6 separate regions of the Homo sapiens genome follow, and regions 1, 2, 3, 4 and 5 are each linked to region 6. Evidence: fine-mapped expression QTL. A gene starts in region 6. Each other region holds a variant in brackets. All regions are shown on one strand. Distances are between the middles of the regions.

Region 1 (4,076 bases), 34 kb before region 6:
GATTGTACCACTGAACACCGGCCTGGGTGACAGAGCCAGACCCCATCTCAAAAAAAAATTCAATAGAATAATTTGTGTAAAGTGCTAAATACAGTAATGGCCCATAGCAAGCACCTAATAACTGTTAACTATTATTTTTGAATTAAATCATAGCATCCAACCTGAAAAGCAATATATGGCAATAAGGAATTTTCTAGGCCATGCCTTTAGAATTTTTATCATCCTTTTAGAATTGAAGCTTCTTGTTAGAAGATTCTGTCCTGTATTTTCATGGATGCCCCAACAGCCACCCTCCCTGCCTTGCAATCAAACAGGTGCTCAAATATTTTTTGAGAATATAATTAAGTACATTTCTACTTTCTAATTTCTAAATGAATGAAATAGAGAACTAGGAAACTTAGGACAGTAAGACTGATGTCAGCTGGGCAATCAGAGAAGGCTTCATGGAGGAGGTGAGACTGACGTAGCCCTTGACAAGTTCGATAGGATTTAGATGGATAAAGTGAAGCAAGGAAAATTCTAATTATTGGAGCCTCGAATGGGTTGGGTGTTCATGAGAGGCAGGGGCAGACTTCGTGGGTACAGCTGCAGCATACTGCACACACATTAAGGGTGGCACCTCTGTGCCCAGACCTGGGCTTAAGTGGAACCAGACTCGCCTGGGACAGACTTTGGGCGCAGTGACAGGAGCCCATCAGCTGCTCAAGAGACCCCTGCCAAAATCTCAACTGGAGCTGGGCACAGTGGCGCATGCCTGTAATCCCTGGGCACAGTGGTGCATGCCTGTAATCCCAGCTACTTGCGTGCCTGAGGCAGGAGAACCCGGGAAGTGGAGGTTGCAGTGAGCTGAAATTGGGCCACTGCACTCCAGCCTGAGCGATAGAGCGAGACTCCGTCTCAAAAAGAAAAAAAAAGTCTCAATCAGCTAGGCCAAGTCCTTCCTGTCCTGTCCCTGTCCCTGCCGCATCCTCCCCGCCCTGCCCCCGGCTCCTCTTTCACACCCTGTGCCAGACAGAAGGCCTGGGAGTGAAAAGACTGGCCATGGGGACAGAGAGCTGGATCCAAAGGTCAAGGCTGAGTTTGCCAGAGCCTGCAGGATCCCTGCACCGCTTTACTGGATCCCCAGGTTGAGCTGAGATGCTGCTCTGGGTGGAGAAGGGGCCATGAGCCTCTGGCAGGCCTCTGTGTCACACCTTTCCACCAGGGAAAACTGGGTGTGGATGTTTCCCCTTCGTATGTACTCTGAGATCTCTATGAGGAGTCTTCCTAGAGGGGAAGGGGGAAGCCTCCTCATAGAGATCTCAGAGTACATAGGAAGGAGCCAGGTCTTTCCGTTCTTCTGCGTCTCCTCACAGCGTCACCTACAAGGGTCTGGCACACAGTGGACACTCTTCCTGGCTTTTCTGGTACAGAGTGACCAACATAACAGTTAATAGCATTTCCTCATTTTACAGACAGGGAAAGCAAAAAACATAAGCATGGTAATGCATATATAATACGTGTCTATGGCAGAGGCATTCGAACCAGAATGACTCCATCTTGAATAGGGGCTGGTAAAATGAGGCTGAGACCTGCTAGGTGGCATTCCCAGGAGGTTAGGCATTCTTAGTCACAGGATGAGATAGGAGGTCAGCACAAGACACAGGTCACAAAGGCCCTGCTGATAAAGCAGGATGCAGTAAGGAAGCCTGCCAAAACCCACCAAAACCAAGATGGCAATGAAAGTGACCACTGGTTGTCCTCACTGCTCAGTATATGCCAATTATACATTAGCATGCTAAGAGACACTCCCACCAGCACCATGGCAGTTTACAAATGCCATGGCAACACCTGGAAATTATCCTATATGGTCTAAAAGAAGGAGGAGTCCTCAACTGGGGGAGGGGGAAAATCTCCATCTCCTTCCCAAAAAGCTCATGAATAACCCACCCCTTGTTTAGCATATGATCAAGAAATAACCATAAAAATAGCCAACCAGCAGCCCTCAGGGTTGCTTTGCCTATAGAGTAGCCATTCTCGTGTTTCTTTACTTGTCTAGCAAACTCGCTTTCACTTTACTTCATGGACTAGCCCAGAGTTCTTGTACAAGATCCGAAAAACCCTCTCTTGGGGTCTGGATCGGGACCCCTTTCTGGCAATGATACCCTCTTATTGTGGTAATTCATTTAATCCTCACAATGATCCTCTGAGGTAGGTGCCATTATTATCTTCATTTTACATGTGGGAAAACTGAAGCCGGAAGGATGAA[C/G]AGCTTCCCAAGTTCACCGAAGGAGTAAGTGGTCCACAGGACTAGGAGCCTGGGATTTGCACCGAGGCAGTCTGGCTCTGTTCTCCATTGGCCACTGCGATGCCACCTGGGTGGAGGGAGCACAGGTCCAATGGCGGGGAGAGTACAGTACAACCCAGGATCCTGTCTTCCAGGTCTCTCCACGCAATTAACCTACTCAAAACTTCATGACAGTCCAGCAAGCTTGTCCAACCCACAGCCTGTGGGCCCCGTGCAGCCCAGGACGGCTTTGAACGCGGCCCAAAACAAATTCGTAAATTGTCTTAAAACATTATGAGTTCTTGGTTGGGCATGGTGGCTCACGCCTGTAATCCCAGCACTTTGGGAGGCCGAGGCAGGTGGATCACCTGAGGTCAGGAGTTTGAGACCAGCCTGACCAACATGGAGAAACCTCGTCTCTACTAAAAATGCAAAATTAACCAGGCCTGGTGGCGCATGCCTGTAATCCCAGCTACTCAGGAGACTGAGGCAGGAGAATCACTTGAACCTGGGAGGCAGAGGTTGTGGTGAGCCGAGATCGTGCCGTTGCACTCCAGCCTCGGCGACAAGAGCAAAACTCAAAAAAAAAAAAAAAATATATATATATATATATATATATATGAAGTTTCTTTGCGATTTTTTAAAAGTGTATCAGCCATTGTTAGTGTTGCTGTATTTTATGTGTGGGGCAAGACAATTCTTCCAATGTGGCCCAGGGAAACAAAACAATTGGACACCCTGGATGATGAAAAAGAGCACTCTTCAGCCCCTGCTGTCACCAAAGCCCCACCTCAGTTCTTGCCCTTAGGTAACGCCAAGATAGCAAAATGGAATTTTACCAAACCGCTCTTAGGTTCCTTCCCCAGGAGACCAGAAATGCCCTGGGGACTGCCTGCCTTTGAGGCAAATTTTTTTTCCTTTTTAAAGAAAGTGGTAAACATCTGAAAATAGAGTTTTTGAAAGAAAGTGACTCTTCAGTTGTAATTATAGCAGAGAGGGTCATTGCTTTCTATCAGCAAGAAAGCTGCTTCTATTTTTTTTTATTCTCTTTTTCTTGGTTTTTTGTTTTGTTTTGTTTTGTTTTGTTTTTTGAGACGGAGTCTCGCTGAGTTGCCCAGGCTGGAGTGCAGTGGTGTGATCTCGGCTCACTGCAAGCTCCATCTCCCGGGTTCAAGCGATTCTCCTGCCTCAGCCTCCCGAGTAGCTGGGACTGCAGGCTCCGGCCACCACGCCTGGCTAATTTTTTTTGTATTTTTAGCACAGACGGAGTTTCACCATGTTGACAGGCTGGTCTCGAACTCCTGGCCTCAGGTGATCTGCCCGCCTCGGCCCCCCAAAATGCTGGGATCACAGGCGTGAGCCACCGCTCCCCGCCGCTGCTTCTAAATACAGCCTGTATAATGCAAATCCCCAAAGAGGGCCAGCCTCTGGCCCCATTCAGCTTCCTCCCTCAGAGGCTGGGTGCGTGCGCCCTGGGCGGGGCGGCGGGCTCCCTCCGGAGAGGCCCCAGCCCGGCCTCGTGCCCCTCCCCAGCAGGCTTCCGGCCCTGCGCACAGACCCAAATGGCGCGGGAGGAGGAAGAAGGGGTCAGCTTCAAGCCTGACGTTCTAGGGGGGAGCCGCTTCTTAAGTACGTGCTAGGATCAAGGGTGCATTTGCAAACTTTTCAAAATGCCTTAGAGGAGGTAGGAGTCAAGCCCTTGGGATCTGGAGGGGAAGGAGGAGAGTCAGTTAAACCGCAGAAAGGTTGGTGGGGAGTGGGCTCAGTAATGGCCCCTGTCACAGCCTCGGGCCGGGACTCGCCAGCTCAT
Region 2 (4,087 bases), 42 kb before region 6:
TTAGTAACTGTGTGACATTGTCATTGACCTCTCTAAGCTTCAGTTTCCTCATCTATAAAGTGAAGATAATATTCCTTAATGGTCAGGGTTATAGTGAGGACTAAGTGAGGGAGGGCTCAGCTGCCAGCTTGGCATCCTCAGCCCATGGCAGCCGTGTCATGGCTTTGTGCTCCAGTTTGTTGCCAGGGCCTGGTGTTTCATGGTTCACTCTCTTGTCTGACTGTTTCCCAGATCAGGCAAGCCCTAAAGCGTCCTTTCATCCCTTTGGACACCTCCTAGTGACGGGAGAGCACAGGCAGTATGGGAGTGGGAAACTGGATGTCATAGCTGAGTGTCCATTCTATAGCTCGTGGGCATCATGCCATGGGCATCTCTTGACATAGTCAAGAGACCTGGATGGAAATGGGCCCCAAACTACTTCACTAGGAGCTTTGTTTTCCTAGACCACAGTTTCTTCATCTATAAAATAAACAGCTTAAATTAGACCAGCGATCCCCGCTTTGCGGGAAGGGGAGAGGGTCTCAGACAGTATGGGGTCCCTGAATCCAGATGCACAGCAAACATTGCCTAGAGAACAAATAGATGATGCGTCTCACACATAAAGCCTGTGCTGTTTGTCAAATGCACAGAGGTGCTGCTATAATTTTTAAGATACATGTAAAAAGTATTACTGAATGCATGGTAGCTTTTTCTCAGCATGCAGTTCTTCATTTGTAGATACTAAAAGTACAATTATGATTACTTGGAAGGATCCAAAAGTGGTTTTGAAGTTTGTTTGTTTGTTTGTTTGTTTGTTTTTGAGACAGAGTCTTACTCTGTCACCCAGGCTGGAGTGCAGTGGCGCAATCTTGGCTCACTGCAACCTCTGCCTCCTGGGTTGGAGTAATTCTCCTGCCTCAGCCTCCGGAGTAGCTGGGATTACAGGTGTGCGCCACAATGCCTGGCTAATTTTTGTATTTTTAGTAGAGACGGGGTTTTGCCATGTTGGCCAGGCTGGTCTTAAACTCCTGACCTCAGGTGATCCACCCACCTCGGCCTCCCAGAGTGCTGGGATTACAGGCATGAACCACTGCTCCCAGCTAAGGTTTTGAAGTCTTAAAGAGGTACTCAGGCTTGAAAAGTTTGGCTACCACTGGATGAGATGAAGGACTTACTCAGCCTCTCCTGGATGTGGCTCCTAATTCCAACCTAACAAACAAGCACTCCTGAGTCTCTAGCTTCACGTCCTTCTTGAAGAAATAGCAGCTACTAGAAGAGGTTCCCCTGTGGCAGTGAAGACAAACTAGAAGGAGAGACAAGTAAGAAAGAGTAGTGTACAACCAGGCATGGTGATTCACACCTGTAATCCCAGCACTTTAGGAGGCTGAGGCAGGAGGATTGCTTGAGCCCAGAAGTTCAAGACCAGCCTGGGCAACATAGAGAGATGCCATCTCTATAAAAAAATTTAAAAAAAAAATTAGCCAGGCATGATGGCACACACTTGTAGTCCCAGCTACTTGGGAGGCTGAAATGGGAGAATTGCTTGATCCTGAGAGTTTGAGGCTGTAGTGAGCTGTGATTGCACCACTGCACTCCACCCTAGGTGACAGGGTAAGACCCTGTCAAAAAGAAAAGAAAGAAAAAGAAAAAAAAAGAAAGAAAGAAAAGAAAAAGAAAAGAAAAAAAGAAAACAGAAAAGAAAAGAGAGAGAGCCTGGGCACAGTGGTTCACAACTGTAATCCCAGCACTTTGGGAGGCCGAGACGGGAGATGGGAGATCAAGAGATCAAGACCATCCTGGCCAACATGGTGAAACCCCATCTCTACTAAAAATACAAAAATTAGCTGGGCATAGTGGCGTGTGCCTGTAGTCCCAGCTACTCAGGAGACTGAGGCAGGAGAATCACTTGAACCCGGGAGGCAGAGGTTGCAGTGAGCCAAGATTGCGCCACTGCACTCCAGCCTGGTGACAGAGTGAGACTCCGTCTCAGAAAAAAAAAAAAAAAGAGAGAGAAAGAATAGTGTGGCCACGCACTGTGGCTCACACCTGTAATCCCAGCACTTTGGGAGGCCGAGGTGGGTGGATCACAAGGTCAGGAGTTCGTGACCAGCCTGGCCAAGATGGCGAAACACTGTCTCTACTAAAATTAGCCAGGCATGGTGGCAGGTGCCTGTAATCCCAGCTGCTCAGGAGGCTGAGGTAGAGAACTGCTTGAACCTGGGAGGCGGAGGCTGCAGTGAGCTGAGATCACGCCACTGTACTCCATCCTGGGTGACAGAGCAAGACTGTGTCGGGAAAAAAAAAAAAAAAAAGGCCAGGCGCAGTGGCTCATGCCTGTAATCCCAGCACTCTGGGAGGCCGAGGCGGGCGGATCATGAGGTCAGGAGATCGAGACCACGGTGAAACCCC[G/A]TCTCTACTAAAAAATACAAAAAATTAGCCGGGTGCGGTGGTGGGTGCCTGTAGTCCCAGCTACTCAGGAGGCTGAAGCAGGAGAATGGCATGAACCCGGGAAGCGGAGCTTGCTGTGAGCTGAGATCACGCCACTGCACTCCAGCCTGGGTGACAGAGTGAGACTCCGTCTCAAAAAAAAAAAAAAAAAAAAAAAAAGGAAAGAAAGAAAGAAAGGGGCTACCTAAAGAGAGGAAGACAACTTTTATAAGAAACTCTGGGAAATGCTCAGGACTCTATTTGTTTAAAGGCCCTTTTTAAGAAATGCTTGCCACTTCCTAGTATTTGTCATTGTTTCCTACTGCACACGTTTGCAGCATATGGGAAGTGGGAGGAGTTAGAATGTCCTCCAAATTCCCCTGACACCCAGTTCCCACCTTCATCCTCTAGAAAAATGTGTTGCTTTGTTTTGTTTAACTTTTCGGGTCACAGACCCTTTCAGAATCTGATAAAGGTGATGGACCCCCTACCTCACCCTAAATGCAGTCACACACGGATAGCTTTTCTTTTTTTTTTAATTTTAATTTTTTTCATGAATAACTTTTCACATAATTTCAGCAGGTTCATCGCCTCCTGAGTTCACATGGACCCCCTTGGGAATTTATGGACACCCCCGCCCAGGTTAGGAAAACCTGCTCTTGTGTGGGTTGCTTCAAACAAGTTTAAATTTGCCTTCTCCTAGTTGTCCATAGATCTAAGCTTTTTCTAAAAGTCCCATGGAACTTGTAATGAGACCTCTAAATGTCCCATATCCCAAAATGCTGTTGTAGGCTTCTTAGATTTTGGAAGACCAGATCAGCAAAAGACAGCATGCACTCAGGTGGAATATTGCAAAGGTAGACATCAGCTCAAGGCTAGCTTCTCTGGGCAGCTGGTGCAAGGTGAATGGAAGCAAGATAGGGGCTCAGGAACAGAGTCCATCTGAGAGCCAGCACTCCCTCCTGACAGTGACAGTTTTGTAAGTTTCTGTCCTAGGAGCTGTGGGCCTGCAGACCTGTGGTCCTTGAAGTGGAAAGCTGCTCCCATCTCTAGGAAGGATCTCCCAGCCTCTGTCCCCCTCCCCCACTGCTACCCGAGCAGCTCTCCCTTCACCTCAGGCCCTGTGTGACACACCTTTCCCCAGGGTTCCTGCCCCGGCAGCCTGCCCTGTCTGTTAGTGCTGTGAGTCTCTGAATGTACCAGCCAAAATCAGGGAAGGTTTCTTCCCACCCACTCAAAACTTCACTTTTCTCATCATCCAAACTCCGAATCTAAAAGCCTAGTTGTTATTTACCAACTTGCGTCCAAATCCACTCTTGGGCTTAGTTTGCAACCAGCATGTACCCTGGGATGAGTGAGAGGCGACAGGCTAGGAAGGGATCTGGGGTTTATTAGTGACAGACCAGGCTGCTAGGTTTGGCTGAGGTGCCACAATTTGCACCAGGCAAGGGAGGTGAATTCAAATACCAGGATGTTGGGCAATATTTCAAAGAGTGAGGCTGGGCATGGTGGCTCATGCCTGCAATCCCAGTACTCTGGGAGGCTGAGGCAGAAGGATCGCTTGAGCCCAGGAGTTCAAGACCAGACTGGGCAACACAGTGAGACCCTGTCTCTACAAAAAATTTTAAAAGTAGCTAGGTGTGGTTGTGCACACGCCTGTAGTCCCAGCTGCTCAGAAGGC
Region 3 (4,087 bases), 52 kb before region 6:
TTTAAAACAATAGGGGAAACACCGGGCGCGGTGGCTCACGCCTGTAATCCCAGCACTTTGGGAGGCTGAGGCGGGTGGATCACGAGGTCAGGAGATCGAGACCATCCTGGTTAACATGGTGAAACCCCGTCTCTACTAAAAATACAAAAAAAATTAGCCGGGCGTGGTGGCGGGCGCCTGTAGTCCCAGCTACTCAGGAGGGTGAGGCAGGAGAATGGCGTGAACCCGGGAGGCGGAGCTTGCAGTGAGCTGAGATTGCACCACTGCACTCCAGCCTGGGCAACAGAGTGAGACTCTGCCTCAAAAAAAAAAAAAAAAATAGGGAAAACAACAACAGCAGCAATAGGGGACTTGTCCCAGCTACTGAGGAGGCTCAGGCAGGAGGATTGTTTGAGCCTAGGAGGTCTAGGCTGCAGTGAGTCATGATGGCACCACTGCACTCCAGCCTGGGCGACAGAGTGGCAAGACCCTGTCTTAAAAAAAAAAAAAAAAAAAGACGAAGGAGAGAAATAATGTTTGACCATGGAAGGTCACACATTTTTGTTGTAGCTAGAGCATGATCCAAGTCGATTCTGAGTCTGGGCCTCTTTCCACTCCCAGCTGTCCTACTAGCCTAATTCATCTGGCATCACTGGGGCCAAAAGCTACAAAGTCCATTTTGAGCTCTAACTTTGCAGAGTCATTTCCATCCTCCTGCCTTCCCCATCCTGACAAGTGCACATGCACACACACATTGCCAGACACCCAGCAGACACAGAATCAATGCTTTTGCGTGAGTGAAACAGCCCCTCTGGCAGCCCTCTTCACCTGCCCAGTCCCCAGTGCCCAGCACCCAGTGCTGAGCTGGTGAAGATCCCGTGGCCAGAGGCACACTTACCATATACATCATGACTCAGATCCCATTTGCTGACTTGGAACTGAAGCCTCTTGCCCCACCAAGCAATTACTGGAGAACAGGAAGTCTCAACGGAAAATGAGGTCAGCCTGGTGGCTGAGAGGAAAAGGGTCAGCGAGCACAGCCTTCTGCCCCCGTGGGTCCCCACAGCGGCCAGCCCAGGGCCCTGCATGCAGCAGATGCCCACCACAGCTTCACTGGTGGGTTAGCTGCTCTGAGCGACTCTGTTCAGCCCAGCCACAGGAGGGGGTTACCAGGCAGGGACTTAATATGTGGCTCTAGAGTCTGAAGGAGACAACTTCAACTCAACCTTGTTTAGCAGAACTGGGCTATGACAAGGACAACCACAGCACTGGAAATCTATTCTTTTTTTTTTTTTTTTTTTTTGAGACGGAGTTTCGCTCTTGTTGCCCAGGCTGGAGTGCAATGGTGCAATCTCGGCTCACTGCAACCTCTGCCCTCCAGGTTCCAGTGATTCTCCTGCCTCAGCCTCCCAAGTAGCTGGGATTACAGGCACCCACCACCATACCTGGCTAATTTTTTGTCTTTTTAGTAGAGACGGGGTTTCACCATGTTGGCCAGGCTGGTCTCAAACTCCTGACCTCAGGTGATCCACTTGCCTCAACCTCCCAAAATGCTGGGATTACAGGCATAAGCCACGGCACCTAGGCTGGACATCTATTCTTTAAAGAACTCTGTGTTACCAAATTCAGTTCTGCAATCTGTCCCAAGAACTTCCTTTTCTGTGCCCTAAGTTACGATAGAGGAAGAGGCACATCAACCCCAGGCCTGCCTGCCTTTCTTTCTTTCCTTCTTTTCTTTCCTCCTTTTCTTTCTTTTTCTTTCCCTCTTTCTTTCTTTCTTTTTCTTTCTTTCTTTCTTTCTCTCTCTCTCTTTCT[T/TTCTCTCTC]TCTTTCTTTCTCTCTCTCTTTCTTTCTCTTCCTTCCTTCCTTTCTTTCTCTCTCTCTCTCTTTCTTTCTTTTCTTCTTTCTTTCTTCCTTCTTTCTTTTTGTCTTGCTCTGTCACCCAGGCTGGAGTGCAGTGGCACGATCTTGGCTCATTACAACCACCACCTCCTGGGTTTACGCAATTCTCCTGCTTCAGCCTCCTGCATAGCTCAGATTGCAAGGGCACACCACCACACCCAGCTAATTTTTGTATTTTTAGTAGAGACAGGGTTTCACCATGTTGGCCAGGCTGGTCTCGAACTCCTGACCTCAAGTGATCTGCCTGCCTCAGCCTCCCAAAGTTGGGATTATAGGCATGAGCCACTGTGCCCGGCTCCCAGGGCTTTCTTGAAGTGGCATAAAAGTAAGAAAGGATTTTAGAAATCATTTAGTCTAAACTCCTCCTGGTTACACCTTTGGAAGCATTTCCCTGTAGATATTCTTCCCATACCCACCATACCTCTTTCTTGGCAATAAATAACCTGCTAGAAGTCAGAAGAGAGAAAAACTTCCATGAGTTTCCAGGAAGCGAGGCCATTATTACTTGTTGTAGGAGGTTGCCCCCCAATATCTATTTGACCTTCTTGCAGGATAGTAGAATATTTGACGGGATGCATGACCACTTAGCTAAAGTCAGCATTTCCCAATCCGTCTTGCAGCAGCAGGGCTGTATGACCAAGGTCTGGCTAATGAGAACTTAGCAAGAAGAATTGTGGCCCTAAAAGGAAGGCACCTGTCTTCTCTATCCCCTCCCTCCCTTTTTCCCAGGCTGGAATGTGGAGATTGTGGTGAGCATCTTCAATCATGTGTATAAGGTACATATCCCAGGAGCAGAGCAACAAGCTAGAAGGAGCTTGGGTCCCAAACACCGTGGAGCTACTGTATTATCCCTGGACTGTCTGCACGCAGACTATTACACACAGGCGAGAAATAAACTTCCATTTTGGTCTAAGCTGTTATTATTTGGCGTCTTGCGTCAGTGAAACCTGCATCCTAACACAACACTCTGTGGGGTGTCGGGGCAGTCGCAACCTCCCGTTCTCTGAGAAACCCCCAATTCCACACACCTAGGAGGTAGCCTGGTGACATTATATCCGGTCCAGGAATATCTGGCTCAGGCTGGGTAGAGTAGGGGCGGGAGTCCTGTCCAAGCAGGGCCAATCAGATTTTCCCTTCCATTAATCTGGAACTGAGATTCACTGTTGCTATTCAACCTCCACGGACTACATGAACCAAGATGCACCAGGAGAAGCAAAAATGAGAGGCCAGGCAGCCCCAGAAAAGCAGAGGGAAGGAGCTGTCTGGGTTGGTAGGGCTCGAGGTTCTGGCCCAGGCACTTGGATGACCTCCCTGATCTCCCTGTTGTGTGGTTCTTGGGAGAGATCCTGACACTTTATGATAAACTCCCTCTTTTGGTCTCAGATGCTTTAGGTTCCTTTCTGTCACCCGTAACCCAAAGTGCCTGAGTCTCTTCTGATCCTTGTAAAGATCTGTGTATCCTCAAAACCAGAGGACCCATGTGTCTGCAGCACACCCTTGGCACACCGGGTCCTCTCCGTCACTGCAATCATAGAAGGTCCTGAGGTGAACTAGGTAGATAGACAGATTGATCGCCTGATCGGCTGATTGGTGAATCAATCCATGGGTCTTCCAAGGGATGCTAAACAGGCCTCATGGAATCACAGAATCAGGGTGAAAGGGACAAAAGGCATCAGGCAAGGTGTGACCAGAAAGGCTTAGTGACATGTCCAAAGCGTGCAATTCAGTGGCAGAGTTTCAACTGGACCCCAGCCCAGCACTCCCAGGTTCACTCCTCCTCCCCTGCCATCCCTGGCTGGCCCAATCTGGGGGTGCTCTGACACACTAGGAATAGTTTCCCCATGCTAATGAGCAAAATCCCTGTGACAGCTATGTCAAATCAAGCATATCTGCGGCTCCTAAGAAAAATGAAAATGTATCCTTTTCTCCTTTTTCTGGGTCTTTCTCTATAATTCTAAATCTCATCACGCATTTTAAATAATAAATGGGCTGGGGGCGGTGGCTCATGCCTATAATCCCAGCACTTTTGTAGGCTGAGGCAGGTGGATCACCTGAGGTCAGGAGTTCAAGACTAGCCTAGCCAATATGGTGAAACCCCATCTCTACTAAAAGTACAAAAAATTAGCTGGGCATAGTGGCAGGCACCTGTAATCCCAGCTACTTGGGAGGCTGAGGCAGGAGAATTGCTTGAACTTAGGAGGCAGAGGTTGCAGTGAG
Region 4 (4,087 bases), 75 kb before region 6:
AAGACTCGGAATTTCAAGATGGCAAAAGCAGAGAATTAGACCAAATGCAGGACCCTTCTCAGCACAGGGCCCTCCTGAGCAGATCCTGGGAAGCTGGCCCAGCCTACCTGGAAGAGCAGGAGATAAGAACTTGGGATTTCTGGTGACCAGGAGGATCACAGGCCTTGGGAAAGCCAGTGGCTGCTTCATTATTTCCATCCCGGGTCAAGTTCGGCCTCCAGAAGGTGAGATGGCCCAGCCAGATCTGGCTCTGTCCTTAGCCCTTCCCTCTGGTGGCCTGCCACTCTCAGATGATGGTGTCAACAAGACCAGAGGCTGCTGGCTCTTTTCTCAAAAGCCAGGACCAGGGAACAGCGCAAAATACAAAGGCCAACGCCTTCACTGGAGGAAGGGGTGGGAGCTGCTTCTCCCTGGGCAGCGCACGCCCACTCAAAGGCATCCAACCTCAAAGTGCATAAGCTCCCATCCGCCCACAGGGCATGCGTTTCGGCCCTATGTCCAACCTTCCCGTTTTACAAATCAGGACACAGAACCATCGGGGCAAGGGACCTCTCCAAGGCAACAGAACTGGGCAGTGCTGAAACTGGGACAAAGGCTTCTGTGACTCCCACCAGGGTCCTTTCCCCAACAGCCAGGTGCCTTTCTGTGCCCTCTGACTGGATCGTAGGGATCCAGGTGTGGGGATCCCTCTGCAGTGACCTTCACCTTCGGGGCCCTGCTCCCATGAGAATCACTGTTGCCCACGGGGGACGCCATTCACTGGGCTCTGGTATTGTGGAATGGAGTTGAAGTTTGGATGGAAGAGCTCACTGTCCCCTCTGCAGGCCTTTAACCCTTAGTGTGAGCAGATGGTAGAACCCCTGCCAGTGCCAAGAGGGGTTCATACCAATATCTGGGATAAACAAGGCCAAAGGGAAAGCGTAGGCTCCCCAAGCACAGTTTCTTTTCTTGCTACTAAACACCTGTGGGAGGAGGAGGCTCAGCCCTTCCTGTGGAGCATCTCTGCCAGGGTTCAATAGTATTGGACTAGAGTCCTGATCTGGGTCAACAAAAAGACTAGGGGACCAGGAGGCAAGAGTCAGCTCACCAGGACGGGCTGCAAACGGGGAGGTCTGCATCCAGGGTGAAGCTGCCCCTCCACAGGAAGCAGGCCCAGGAACCCCTGGCAATGCAGACAGGCTGAACCCACAGCACAGCCCCCATGGCGGGAGCAACTCCCGGTCAAGCGGCGGCAGGAAGTGCCCCAAAGGTGTCCACTTTTATTGTGCAGGACAGAATGTCTGCACATGCACCATCTTACAGAATTTGCACAGCTGCCTAAGGACAGAAGCTGAGGCTGCATTGTAAGGACACGCAAAGGGAGCCCCAGAGGACTGAAGTCCCTTTCTTAGGGCTCCTCAGGCTCTCTGACCAGTGAAGTTCTACAGCTGGGAGGGGAGCTGGGCTTTCCTAGTCTTGGCCCGATGCTTGTGGTCTGGCCTCTGACCACTCTCCATCTCACCCTGCCCAGCGCTGAGCCATTCTTCCCTGCCCCGGGGCCTCTGTGCAGGTGGGGGGTGGGGGTGGCCAGGGACCCTGCGCCTCACAGGCAGGTCACCAGGATCTGTAGAGCAGATTGAACACCCCATCCCCCGTGTTTGAAATGCCCTCTGGGCCCTTCCTCGCCGTCCACCCAGGAAGCTCTTCCTTCCATTAAGCTGGTTATTTCCACCACAGGGCCTTGGTGACACCTCTCACCTGATCACTATCCGTTCTCTCACTGGACGGTGAACTCCTTCAGGGTAGGAG[C/T]CGTAGTATGAGGCTGGCACTTACTGATAACTAGTAGTTGTTTTATCCATGAAGGGAGGGGACGACCTACACAGGCCTACACTTTAGGCATGACACGACAGCCAACATAGTCCCCAGACCAGTGTATCATCCTTCCACTATGTAAACACAGATAGGTTTCCCCTTGAAAAAAATTCCCACTATGTGAAAAGCCAAATCAATTTACAAGACAGCAAAATGGCGGAAGGAAGGGAAGGGACGGAAGGGACGGAAGGGACGGAAGGGACGGAGGGGACGGAAGGGACGGAGGGGACGGAAGGGACAGAAGGGAGGGAAGGGAGGAGGAGACATCTTGCAAATGGACTCCCCGCAGACTCCTTCAAATAGTCCCCTTTGTGAATCTCTTTCTAATCTTAGAATGAGGAAAACCTTTATAACTATGACATCAAATCCGGAAGCCATAAAGGATTAATACATTTGACTGCATAAAATTAAAATTATTTGAATGCAAAATAATAATAGCATATACACTTATAGCGCTCATTTCATGTCAAACCCTGCACAGAACACTTTATATATCTGAAGTCGTGTCATTCTCATAACAATCCCTGGGATAAGTACTGTCCTTATCTAAGGGACTCTGAGGTTAAGTAACTAAACTATGGTCATTCAGCCAGTAAGTTACAGACAAAACCCAGTAGCCTGCCTTCAGAGTGTGTGCTCCAGCCATTTCCTCGACCACCACACACCACACAAAATCAGGAGACAAAGAGAAACGGGGGGAACACTGCTGCACAGAGCACAAAGGACTGATTATCCTGAAGTCTGTGGAGGCCTTAAAAATGAGCCAACAGAAAAACTGAGTACAAACAAGCAAGCCCCTGAAGAAACATCACAAATCTGTGTAATAGATATGATAGCCTACATGATTGGCGAAGACTTAAGAGACTGATAATACTCAGTGTTGGTGAAGACATGGCTAAGCAAGCACTTTCACGTCCTTGGTAGAAATGTAAATTACTACCAAACGTACCAGAATTGTTACAATCATTTTTTTTTGGAGGACAATCTGACAATTATCTATTAAAATTTAAAATAGTCTTACCTAGTAAGTCCACTTCTAGGAGTCTCCCACAGAATAAGTCTCCCACAGAAAATGCTCCCCAAAGCTCAAAAAGACAAGCTATTCCATGCATCATTATTGATAATGTCAAAAACTGGGAATGAGCCAAATTGTAATCAAGGGTGTGTGGGCTAAATAAGCTGGCCTACAACCACACAATTAAATACTACATGTGTCTTTGAAAAGAGAGAGGTGTTCTTGTTCAATCAGTAAAAAACAATGGACAAAATGAAACAAAACAAAAAGAATGAGGTAGATCCCTATGATTAGATACAGAAGATATCTAAAATGTATTTAGTGGGGAGCAAGTCAGTAAGAACATGATATGATTCTATATTGGTAAAAATGAAACAAAGTATTCAGAGGATCTACTTTATATTTCAATGCATTAGAATAAGCACAGGAAACAGATATGGGAGGAATTTCTATCACACTAAAGACTTTCCCTTTCTTTCTAAGTTATGTATTTTCCCAATTGTAGGTTGTTTTCTCATGGGAGTTTGGTTTCAGTAAAAACCAGAGAACCTGCTAGACAAATTCTAGAAGAGCTCTAACACTTCCACTTCTAATTTTTCACACCTAAGACATCATCCTGTTACAATCAGGAAAAATATAATAAAGATGAAATTAAATATGCGATAAATAGCAAAAAACACCTTCCCTGTTTCTTTCTTTCTTCTACAAGCATGTGCTGGGTATGCCTCCTGAGTCCTAGGCACTGATGTCTCAGGCTGGGCATGCAGAGACGAATCCATATGGCTCCTGCTCTCAAGAAACTTCTGGAAGGGGGGAAACAGTTGGTAAATTTAGGGGGGGATTGTCTCCTGGACTCAGTTTTCCTCCGTGGGGTGAGGCAGATGGGCTGCTGTGGCAGCCGTCTCAGAGAGGGCGGGGTCTCCCTGTCAGGACCCAAGGGGTCCTAGGGTACAGGTGGAAGGCAGAGGTGGAGCGGTGTGGGGCAGCGGATCAGGGAGGGGCTGATGAGGCACTTAGGCTTTGTCCTGAGGGCAGCAGGGAGCAGTAGGAAGGTTATCCGCAGCCAGTGGCATCCTTAGAGCAGCGTCTTATTTTTTATTTTCGTTATTTTCTGTAGAGACGGTGTCTTGCTATATTGCACAGGCTGGTCTGGAATCCTGGTCCCAAACAAGTGGTCCTCCTGCCTCAGCCTCCCAATGTGCTGTAGCAGCATTTTAGCAG
Region 5 (4,087 bases), 27 kb before region 6:
ACCTCCCCCAATAGACTATAAGCCACCATGAGTTCAGCACAACTTATGTAAGTTATAGTGCCTCACATAAGTTGTGCTCACTAAATAAATGTTGATTAGTTGCAGTTCTTTTTTTTTTTTTTTTTTTTTTTTTGCACTGTCTCCCGGGCTGGAGTACAATGGCACGATCTCGGCTCACTGCAACCTCCGCCTCCCAGGTTCACACGATTCTCCTGCCTCAGCCCCCCTAGTAGCTGGGATTACTGGCGCCCACCACCACAGCCGGCTAATTTTTTGTATTTTTAGTAGAGACGGAATTTCACCATGTTGGCCAGAATGGTCTTGAACTTCTGACCTCGTGATCCGCCTGCTTCGGCCTCCTAAAGTGCTGGGATTACAGGCATGGGCCACCGCGCCCGGCCTAGTTGCAGTTCTTTTTCTTCTGCAGTAAAGGCCAAACACACACAAAATCAGTCTCCTCCCAATCCTGACTTGCATCCTCTAAGTTTAGTAGCACAGAGAGAAAATGTAGAGAATGGTCGTACCCAAGATATTAAGGGGGGATGAGTTCAAGACAAAATAAAATGTTTGCCCAACGCTGACATTTTAAATGCTCATCTGAAAATTGGCACCTCCAGAATGTTGCCCTCTTCAGAGCATTCAGACCCAGGGCACCATAACATTAAATTCCTTTGTGTTTAAGACATTTCCTCTTAATTCTCTTTCTCTTTGAGGGAATGGTATAAGTACAAGAGGTTGGAAGAAACCATACACTTCTTTTTTAAAAAATAGAGACAGGAGCTGGTCATGTTGCCCAGGCCAGTCTAGAATTCTTGGTCTCAGGCTAATCCTTCCCCATCGGCCTGCCAAAGTGCTGGGATTACAGGTGTCAATCACTACACCCAGTCCCCATATACTTTTTTTTTTTTTTTTTGAGACGGAGTTTTGCTCTTGTTGCCTAGGCTGGAGTGCAATGGCATGATCTTGGCTCACTGCAACCTCCGCCTCCCCGGTTCAAGTGATCCTCCTGCCTCAGCCTCCTGAGTAGCTGGGATTACTGGCACGTGCCACCACATCCTAAATTTTGTATTTTTAGTAGAAACAGGGTTTCGCCATGTTGGCCAGGCTGGTCTTGAACTCCTGACCTCAGGTGATCTGCCTGCCTCGGCCTCCCAAAGTGCTAGGATTACAGGCATGAGCCACCAGGCCTGGCCCCTGTATACTTCTTTAAATGCAATAGAGCAGACATATAGACCAGTGGAATAGAATAGAGCCCCAAAATAAACCCTTGCCTATATGGTAAACTGATTTTCAGCAAGGCTTCCAAGACCACTCAATGGGGAAAGGATAATCTTTTCAGTAAATGGTGCTGGAAAAACTGGATAGTCCCACATACAAAAGAATGAAACTGGACCCTTACCTTATGCCATATACAGAAACTAACTCAAAATGAACCAAAGACCTAAACTTGAGAGTTAACACTGTAAAACTCTTACAAGAAAACACGGGGAAAAATCTTCATGACATTGGACTTCACAATGATTTCTAGAATATGACAGCAAAATTGCAGGCAACAAAAGAAAAAAACAGATAAATTAGATTTCATCAAAATACAGAACTTGCGCACCAAAGGACACTATTAAAAGAGTGAAAAGGGGCCGGGCGCGGCGGTTCACGCCTGTAATCCCAGCACTTCGGGAGGCCGAGGCGGGCAGATCATCTGAGGTCAGGAGTTCGAGACCAGCCTGGCCAACATGGTAAAACGCTGTCTCTAATAAAAACACAAAAAAATTAGCCGAGCATGGTGGCAGGTGCCTGTAATCCCAGCTACTCAGGAGGCTGAGGCAGGAGAATCGCTTGAGCCTGGGACGCAGAGGTTGCAGTGAGCCAAGAGTGTGCCACTGCACGCCAGCCCGGGCAACAGAGCGAGACTCTGTATAAAAATAAATAAATAAATAGGCCAGGCGTGGTGGCTTACGCCTGTAATCCTAGCACTTTGGGAGGCCGAGGCGGGTGGATTACCTTAGGTCGGGAGTTCGAGGCCAGCCTGACCAACATGGAGAAACCCCGTCTCTACTAAAAACACAAAATTAGCCAGGCGTGGTGGCACGTGCCTGTAATCCAAGCTACTCGGGAGGCTGAGGCAGAAGAATCACTTGAACCTGGGAGGCAGAGGTTGTGGTGAGCTGAGATCATGCCATTGCACTCCAGCCTGGGCAACAAGAGCAAAACTCCATCTCAAATAAATAAATAAATAAATAGATAAATAAATAAAAATTAAAAAATAAAAGAGTGAAAAGACAACCTACAGAATGGGAGAAAATATTTGTAAACCATATTTCTGTTAAGGAATTAATATCCAGAATAGATAAAGAACTCCTACAACTTAACAGCGAGAAAACCAAACAACTCAATTCAAAAAAGGAGAAGGAACTAGGGTAGACATTTCTCCAAAGAAGACACACAAATGGCCAACAAGCTTCATGAAAAAAGGCTCAATGTCACCAGTCATTAGACAAATACAAATCAAAACAAAATGAGATACAACTTCTTACCTGTTAGGATGACTAT[T/C]TGAAAAAAATGAAAGAAGAAAGAAAAAAAAGCAAGTTTTGGTAAGGATACAGAGAAACTGAAATTCTCATGCATGACTGGTGAGAACGTAAATGATGCAGCCAGCAGCCACTGTGGAAAACAGCTTGGCAGTTCCTCAAAAAGTTAGAGAATTACCATATGACTTAGCAATTTCATTCCTAGGTGTGTACCCCAAAAAACTGAAAGAAAGGACTCAGATACCTATACACCAATGTTAATGGCAGCATGTTCACAACGGCGAAAAGAAACAAGCCAGTGTCCATCAGCAGATGAATGGATAACCAAATGCGATATATTCATACAATGGAATATTTTTCAGGCTAGAAAGGAAGGAAATTCTGGCCAGGCACAGTGGCTCACACCTGTAATCCCAGCACTTTGGGAGGCCCAGGCTGGCAGATCACAAGGTCAGGAGTTCAAGACCAGCCTGGCCAACATGGTAAAACCCCGTCTCTACTAAAAATACAAAAATTAGCCAGGCGTGGTGGTGCACTCCTGTAATCCTAGCTGCTCAGGAGGCTGAGGCAGGAGAATTGCTTGAATCTGGGAGGTGGGGGTTGCAGTGAGCCAAGATTGTGCCACTGCACTCCAGCCTGGGCGACAGAGCGAGACTTCATCTCAAAAAAAAGAAGGCTGGGCATGGTGGCTCAAGGTTGTAATCCCAGCACTTTGGGAGGCCGAGGCAGGCAGATCACGAGGTCAGGAGTTCACAACCAGCCTGGCCAACACGGTGAAACCCCCGTCTCTACTAAAAATACAAAAATTAGCTGGGCATGGTGGCAGGCACCTGAAATCCCAGCTACTCGGGAGGCTGAGGCAGGAGAATCGCTTGAACCCTAGAGGCAGAGGTTGCAGTGAGCCAAGATTGTACCACTGCACTCCAGCCTAGGCGACAGAGTGAGACTCCATCTCAAAAAAAAAAAAAAAGAAAAAGAAAAAGAAAAACCTTTACCCCAATTAATGTACCCCAAATGCCATTGGGTAGGGCCTTGCAGAAGGAATGCTAAGTGTGGGCTTTGACACAACCCAATTCCCTGTGGCAACCAGGTGTTGCTGGTTTAGGTTAGTGATTAGTGCTTACGGGTGGGGTAAAAGAAATACAGCCTTGGCTTATGAATACCTAGGCACAGAATGTCCCCACCTCGGCCCTATGGGGCAACTGTTCTCACAACCCTGTGAGTTCTTCCCAAGGAATCAGGGCCAAAGGATTAAGGACCTCAAAAAAAGGGAGTTCTCATTCCAGCTCCTTCAGCAGAGTCACTGTACCTTGAAGGACCAGCACCATTTGTGCTTCAGGGAAAACAACACTGGAAAACAACAAAGGCCTCTACCAGAAGGTGGGAGTGGGAACTCTCCCCTGCACCCCTATGCTTTAGGAGGAAGGTGCTGCCCACATGCTAAGCCAGTTGCAGGAGAGCACCTAGGCCTGCTGCATTCCACCTCCTGCAGAGACACCTGTGTGCTCCTGTGTTGTAGCTTGTTAAGGGAGTGTAGACTTGTCCTTCTTGTGTTGAGT
Region 6 (4,087 bases):
AGTGAATGACAAATGAAGAGAAAGGTACACTAACACCTCAGTTACCTGCTAGAGAGAGACATTCATCCAGCCTAGCCAGTCATTTCCTTCTCCTTCCTCCCACCACCTCTTTCCTTCTGAACCTCTGGTTCAGATGCAGAGTCCTTAGCCTGTAACTCTGGATCGTTCAACCCATCAGCACATAAGAAACTTGCTCTTCTGAGAATGAAAATAAGCAGCAACACAATTTCCTTAACAACCAAGGATCTTATAGAGGCAAGAACTAGAAGTAAGAAGAAAACACATACTAGGGACAGAAGACATGGACTGGAGGTCTTGGGCCAATTAGGTGACCTTATTCCTATCTCAGAGCCTCTCCAACTCATGGCTTCCTCAACTCATTCATTTAACAAATGTTTTCTAAAGCAATGACCGTGTACCAAGAGTTGCCTCATGCACTCGGGCTGCAGCAGTGAATAAAACAGGAGAGGCCCTGCCCTCAGAGATCTTGTGTCCTAGTGAGAGTGACAGGCAATACATACTAAATAAATAAGCAGTGTAACTTTAGGTGGTGAGCAGTGCTATGAAAGAAATTAAACAAATGATAAAGACAAATTGGGGAGGAGGCATCCTGTGAAGAGGTTGGTCAGGGGAGGGCTCCTGGGGGAAGTAACATTTGAGCTGAGACCTGAATGTACTAGGAAGGGCCAGCCAGGAGATAAGCCAGGGAAAGAAGGTTCCAGACAGAGGGACAAGCAAGCCTTGCGGTGGGACCGCTCTCGGGGCTGGCTGCCAATCCAGGAAAACAGCACTGGGTATGCAGTTGTACTAGGTGAATGGTTTTGACACAGCACACCAAGCAGTCCTACAGTTCCCTGGTGGTGTCTCAAGGGCGGAGGGGCCAAGGACAGAGACTCTGCCAGACTCACGCCACCCTGCCCAAAACACACACAGAGAACGAGAGAGAGAGAGAGAGAGAGAGACGCGTGCACATACTCTGCTTCAACAAAACAGCTCTTCTTTAATCCGAAGTGTATATTGGGTGGCTGCTTAAGATTTTGTTCGAGGACCAGGTTCAGGGATCAGAAATTCTTGATCTCAAAAGTCCTTTTCCACACTTTGTTTGATTCTCTGCAATGTTACACAGCCTCAGCAGTGGTCATAGAAGGGTTCGTTCTATTCTATCCATTGGCAAGGAGTCACAGAGTGCAGCTCCCAGCAATCTGGCTCTCCTCTCACCGTAACATCCCACCCTTTCCCCTCCAGCAGTGGACTGGAACCTCTGATGCCTTCCAAGCCCATCCCAGCTACAGAGGGACACACATCTCTGCCTCTTCCTAGGAGATTAGACTGATTTCCTTTCCTTGCACTGTCCAAATGAGACGCTTTCTGTCCTACACAGTAGAGCTTTGTGAAGACAGCCGAGAAACGGCTCAAGTTTTTTCCAACCTGTAAAATGCAAAGTTGGCCAGCTGCCTCTCTTCCTAGCCTCAAAACTCATATATTTCCTGTCTCCCCGGCAGCTCTAAGAGAAGTCTCTACTGTCCTGGGGTTTGGGGAAAGCACTGCTCAGAATGTGAAATCATTTTCTGGTAATACGGATCTAATTAGCTCTTTGACTGACAAGAGGAAGCAGAGGCCAAAAGGGAGTTAACCAATCTGTTTTTCAGATATTTCAAAACAAGTGAAGAACCAGATAGGGAAACAGAGAGAAAGAGAAAATAAAGAGACAAAGCCTAGGGAGCATTTGGAGAAGGGAGTGAGTAAGAAGAGAACGGGGAGGGAGAATATCAAGTGACTAAAGTATCAATCCTCTGTTCTTCCAGCTTCACCTCTACTCCCGGTCTCCCCTCTGCTCTCTTCCAGAGAGAACTTACTTGAAGGTCGATGTTTTCTCTTGCTGATTCCATCTCGCTGCCCTCAAGTCCCTTCACACGCACCGGGTGCCGGGAACAGACTGCGTGGGCTCCTCCAGGCTCCGCCGTCTGAGTCTCTGCTGCTTTCTTCGGGTGGGAGAGAGCACACAGCTGGCGGGACAGACCTGCCATTCATCCCTCTGATGTGGGATGCCCGTCTTGGCTGCAGCCTCTGGGGGAGGTGTGCACCTGCACACACGTGTGAGTGTATGTGTGTGCACATGTGTGTGCTCCAGGAGGTGGCACATGGCACACTGATAGGTGACCTTTTGAGTTGGTAGTGACAGCATCATTTTCACCAGTGGCTCCAGTGACCTTCCAGTCCCAGCGGAGCCATCTGAGGTCACCCAGCCTGCTTTGAGCTAGTAGCTTTATGACTGGCAAAGAAATCCTGCATGTTTATCAAGCAAATTGAAAAACAGCCTGAGGACAACGCTATCTGACTTCACCGCTGGGTCCAGTCCCCAGTCGCCACGGGTGGAGTGACCTCCAGCACAGTCTCAATACTGAGGCAGAGGGATTTCCGTTGTTCTTTGCTTTGTTCCCTATATCCCTAAAAGTTTTTAAAAAAATTGTAGTTTACCTAATAGGCTCCAAAGCATAGGCTTTGTTCTGCAAAGTGAGTGAACAATACGTTTTTACTGACGGATTGTTTGATTCCTTCAACTCCTCCCTTGATTAGCCATAGAGGGAGCAGGGAGTAGTTGTACCTTCGAAGCTTGTTTATGCAAACAGTGGTATTCTCCCTACTTTTAAAATAAAATTACCAGGAGGGAGTCTTTTTTTAGAAAGTTTTTTTTTTCCTCTCCTGTTTACCTTAGAGCCCAAAACTCTTCTGGCTTGTTCCTGAAGCAAGGTTTAGACACAAGCTTGTGCAGGTGTGGGTGTGGGTATGTCTGTAGACGTGCATGGCAGGGTGTTAACCTGTAATCCAATTCAGGGCTTGAAGAGGTGCGGGCAGGAGGAAGACAGGCAGAGTCAACACGTTTACCCTCACCACATTCAAATGTAAAAAAAAAAAAAGGCGATTTCTTCAGTTCTATGAAATGCCTTTATAAGTTCCCATCCCTCTGGACAGTGGTGCGAGGGAGGGTTGGATGATTGGATGGGGGCCATATTTTAGTCTAATCTATGAAGCATAGTTGGATTTAATCATTTAAATGGTAAACAGTCCACTTTAGACACAATGCTCAGTCTTTCGGATTTGCAGAAGATGGCACCTAGGTGCACAGGAGGGCGGGGTGGGGACGGTTCTTGCATCTATCCTGTGGCCTCTCCATCTCGGCTCCTTTCTGTTCTGGAGCTGCTGGGCCCACGGGCCCGCCCGAATTGCTGACTGCTGAGGAGACACAGGTCCTGCTCCTGGGTCTTCTGCTGGCCTTGGTGGCTGATGTCTGATATTAGGCCAGAGTCACTCATGGGTGATTCTCTTTCTGCCTTTGAGATCCAGTGTTCTCCCTTGCTGTCTGCGCTACCTTGGCTCGTGGCAATGTGGACCATCCTGAGACCTGGCTTTGACTTGTATGTGCCCCCATCCCACTGTATCCGCTCAGTGGCCCACATCTCTAAGATAAGCCCCTCGAAATTTTCCTGTGAGATGCTTGACCAGTGCTCCTGAGCCCCCTTAGGCACATGGGGACTGAGGGCTGCTGACGAAGGGCAGGGGAAAGGCAAGCTCAGCCCCACTTCCAGCAGAGTTTGCTCTGATGTGGCTGCTCCAACTGACACAGGGCAGTCTGCGAGGTGATCTCCTTCCACATTCCTGAATGGAAATGAGACCTGGAACCCACTCTTCTCAGCACTCCTTAAAAAGTCTACCAGTAATATCTATCACCCCACCGCTCATAATAATACCACTATGTATCAAGCACTATTCTAAGCACTTTTTTTTTTTTGAGATGGAGTCTCGCTCTGTTGCACAAGCTGGAGTGCAGTGGCGCCATCTCGGCTCACTGCAACTTCTGCCTCCTGGGTTCAAACGATTCTCCTGCCTCAGCCTCCCGAGTAGCTGAGATTACTTCTTCCCATAGTCCCCTTAATCTAGAATCAGAAAATGTACGCTTTGTCTTCTTTTTTTTTTTTTTTTTCCTGTTTGGCTGGGATGTATCTGATGTAGAACTCTATGACAACAATTCAAAGGGAAATGAAGAAATTTAGAAAATCCTCTCTCTCAAGAAAACCTGGTTGTCAAA

The links. PIP is the estimated chance that this variant, and not a neighbour inherited with it, causes the effect.
Region 1: its variant is fine-mapped to the expression of NINJ2 in whole blood (INTERVAL, PIP above 0.99).
Region 2: its variant is fine-mapped to the expression of NINJ2 in whole blood (TOPMed, PIP 0.91).
Region 3: its variant is fine-mapped to the expression of NINJ2 in NK cells (Gilchrist 2021, PIP 0.95). The same link has a PIP of 0.9 or more in monocytes and monocytes after interferon gamma.
Region 4: its variant is fine-mapped to the expression of NINJ2 in whole blood (TOPMed, PIP above 0.99).
Region 5: its variant is fine-mapped to the expression of NINJ2 in whole blood (TOPMed, PIP above 0.99).

The regions. Positions count from the first base shown.
Region 1 is chr12:627,036-631,111 of GRCh38, forward strand. The region is part of intron 1 of NINJ2 (ninjurin 2); the gene reads right to left. It overlaps NINJ2-AS1 (NINJ2 antisense RNA 1), which reads left to right and starts at 3,856. Exons shown (of 5, transcript NR_122124.1): 1 at 3,856-3,950. RefSeq lists silencers at 3,642-3,721, 3,782-3,881. The variant C/G (reference allele first, on the strand shown) is at 2,249.
Region 2 is chr12:619,849-623,935 of GRCh38, forward strand. All of the region lies in intron 1 of NINJ2 (ninjurin 2), which reads right to left. Among named protein-coding and RNA genes, the nearest start is that of NINJ2-AS1, 9.0 kb to the right of the region's middle. RefSeq lists enhancers at 3,121-3,865, 3,866-4,087. The variant G/A (reference allele first, on the strand shown) is at 2,389.
Region 3 is chr12:609,469-613,555 of GRCh38, forward strand. The region is part of intron 1 of NINJ2 (ninjurin 2); the gene reads right to left. Among named protein-coding and RNA genes, the nearest start is that of NINJ2-AS1, 19 kb to the right of the region's middle. RefSeq lists enhancers at 1-209, 463-964. The variant T/TTCTCTCTC (reference allele first, on the strand shown) is at 1,795.
Region 4 is chr12:586,141-590,227 of GRCh38, forward strand. The region is part of intron 1 of NINJ2 (ninjurin 2); the gene reads right to left. It overlaps LOC105369595 (a long non-coding RNA gene), which reads right to left and starts at 346. Exons shown (of 2, transcript NR_134624.1): 1 at 108-346. It also overlaps the pseudogene RNU7-103P. The variant C/T (reference allele first, on the strand shown) is at 1,789.
Region 5 is chr12:634,158-638,244 of GRCh38, forward strand. All of the region lies in intron 1 of NINJ2 (ninjurin 2), which reads right to left. The region is part of intron 3 of NINJ2-AS1 (NINJ2 antisense RNA 1); the gene reads left to right. Among named protein-coding and RNA genes, the nearest start is that of NINJ2-AS1, 5.3 kb to the left of the region's middle. The variant T/C (reference allele first, on the strand shown) is at 2,551.
Region 6 is chr12:661,472-665,558 of GRCh38, forward strand. NINJ2 (ninjurin 2) reads right to left here and starts at 1,974. Exons shown (of 4, transcript NM_016533.6): 1 at 1,857-1,974. The coding sequence starts at 1,889.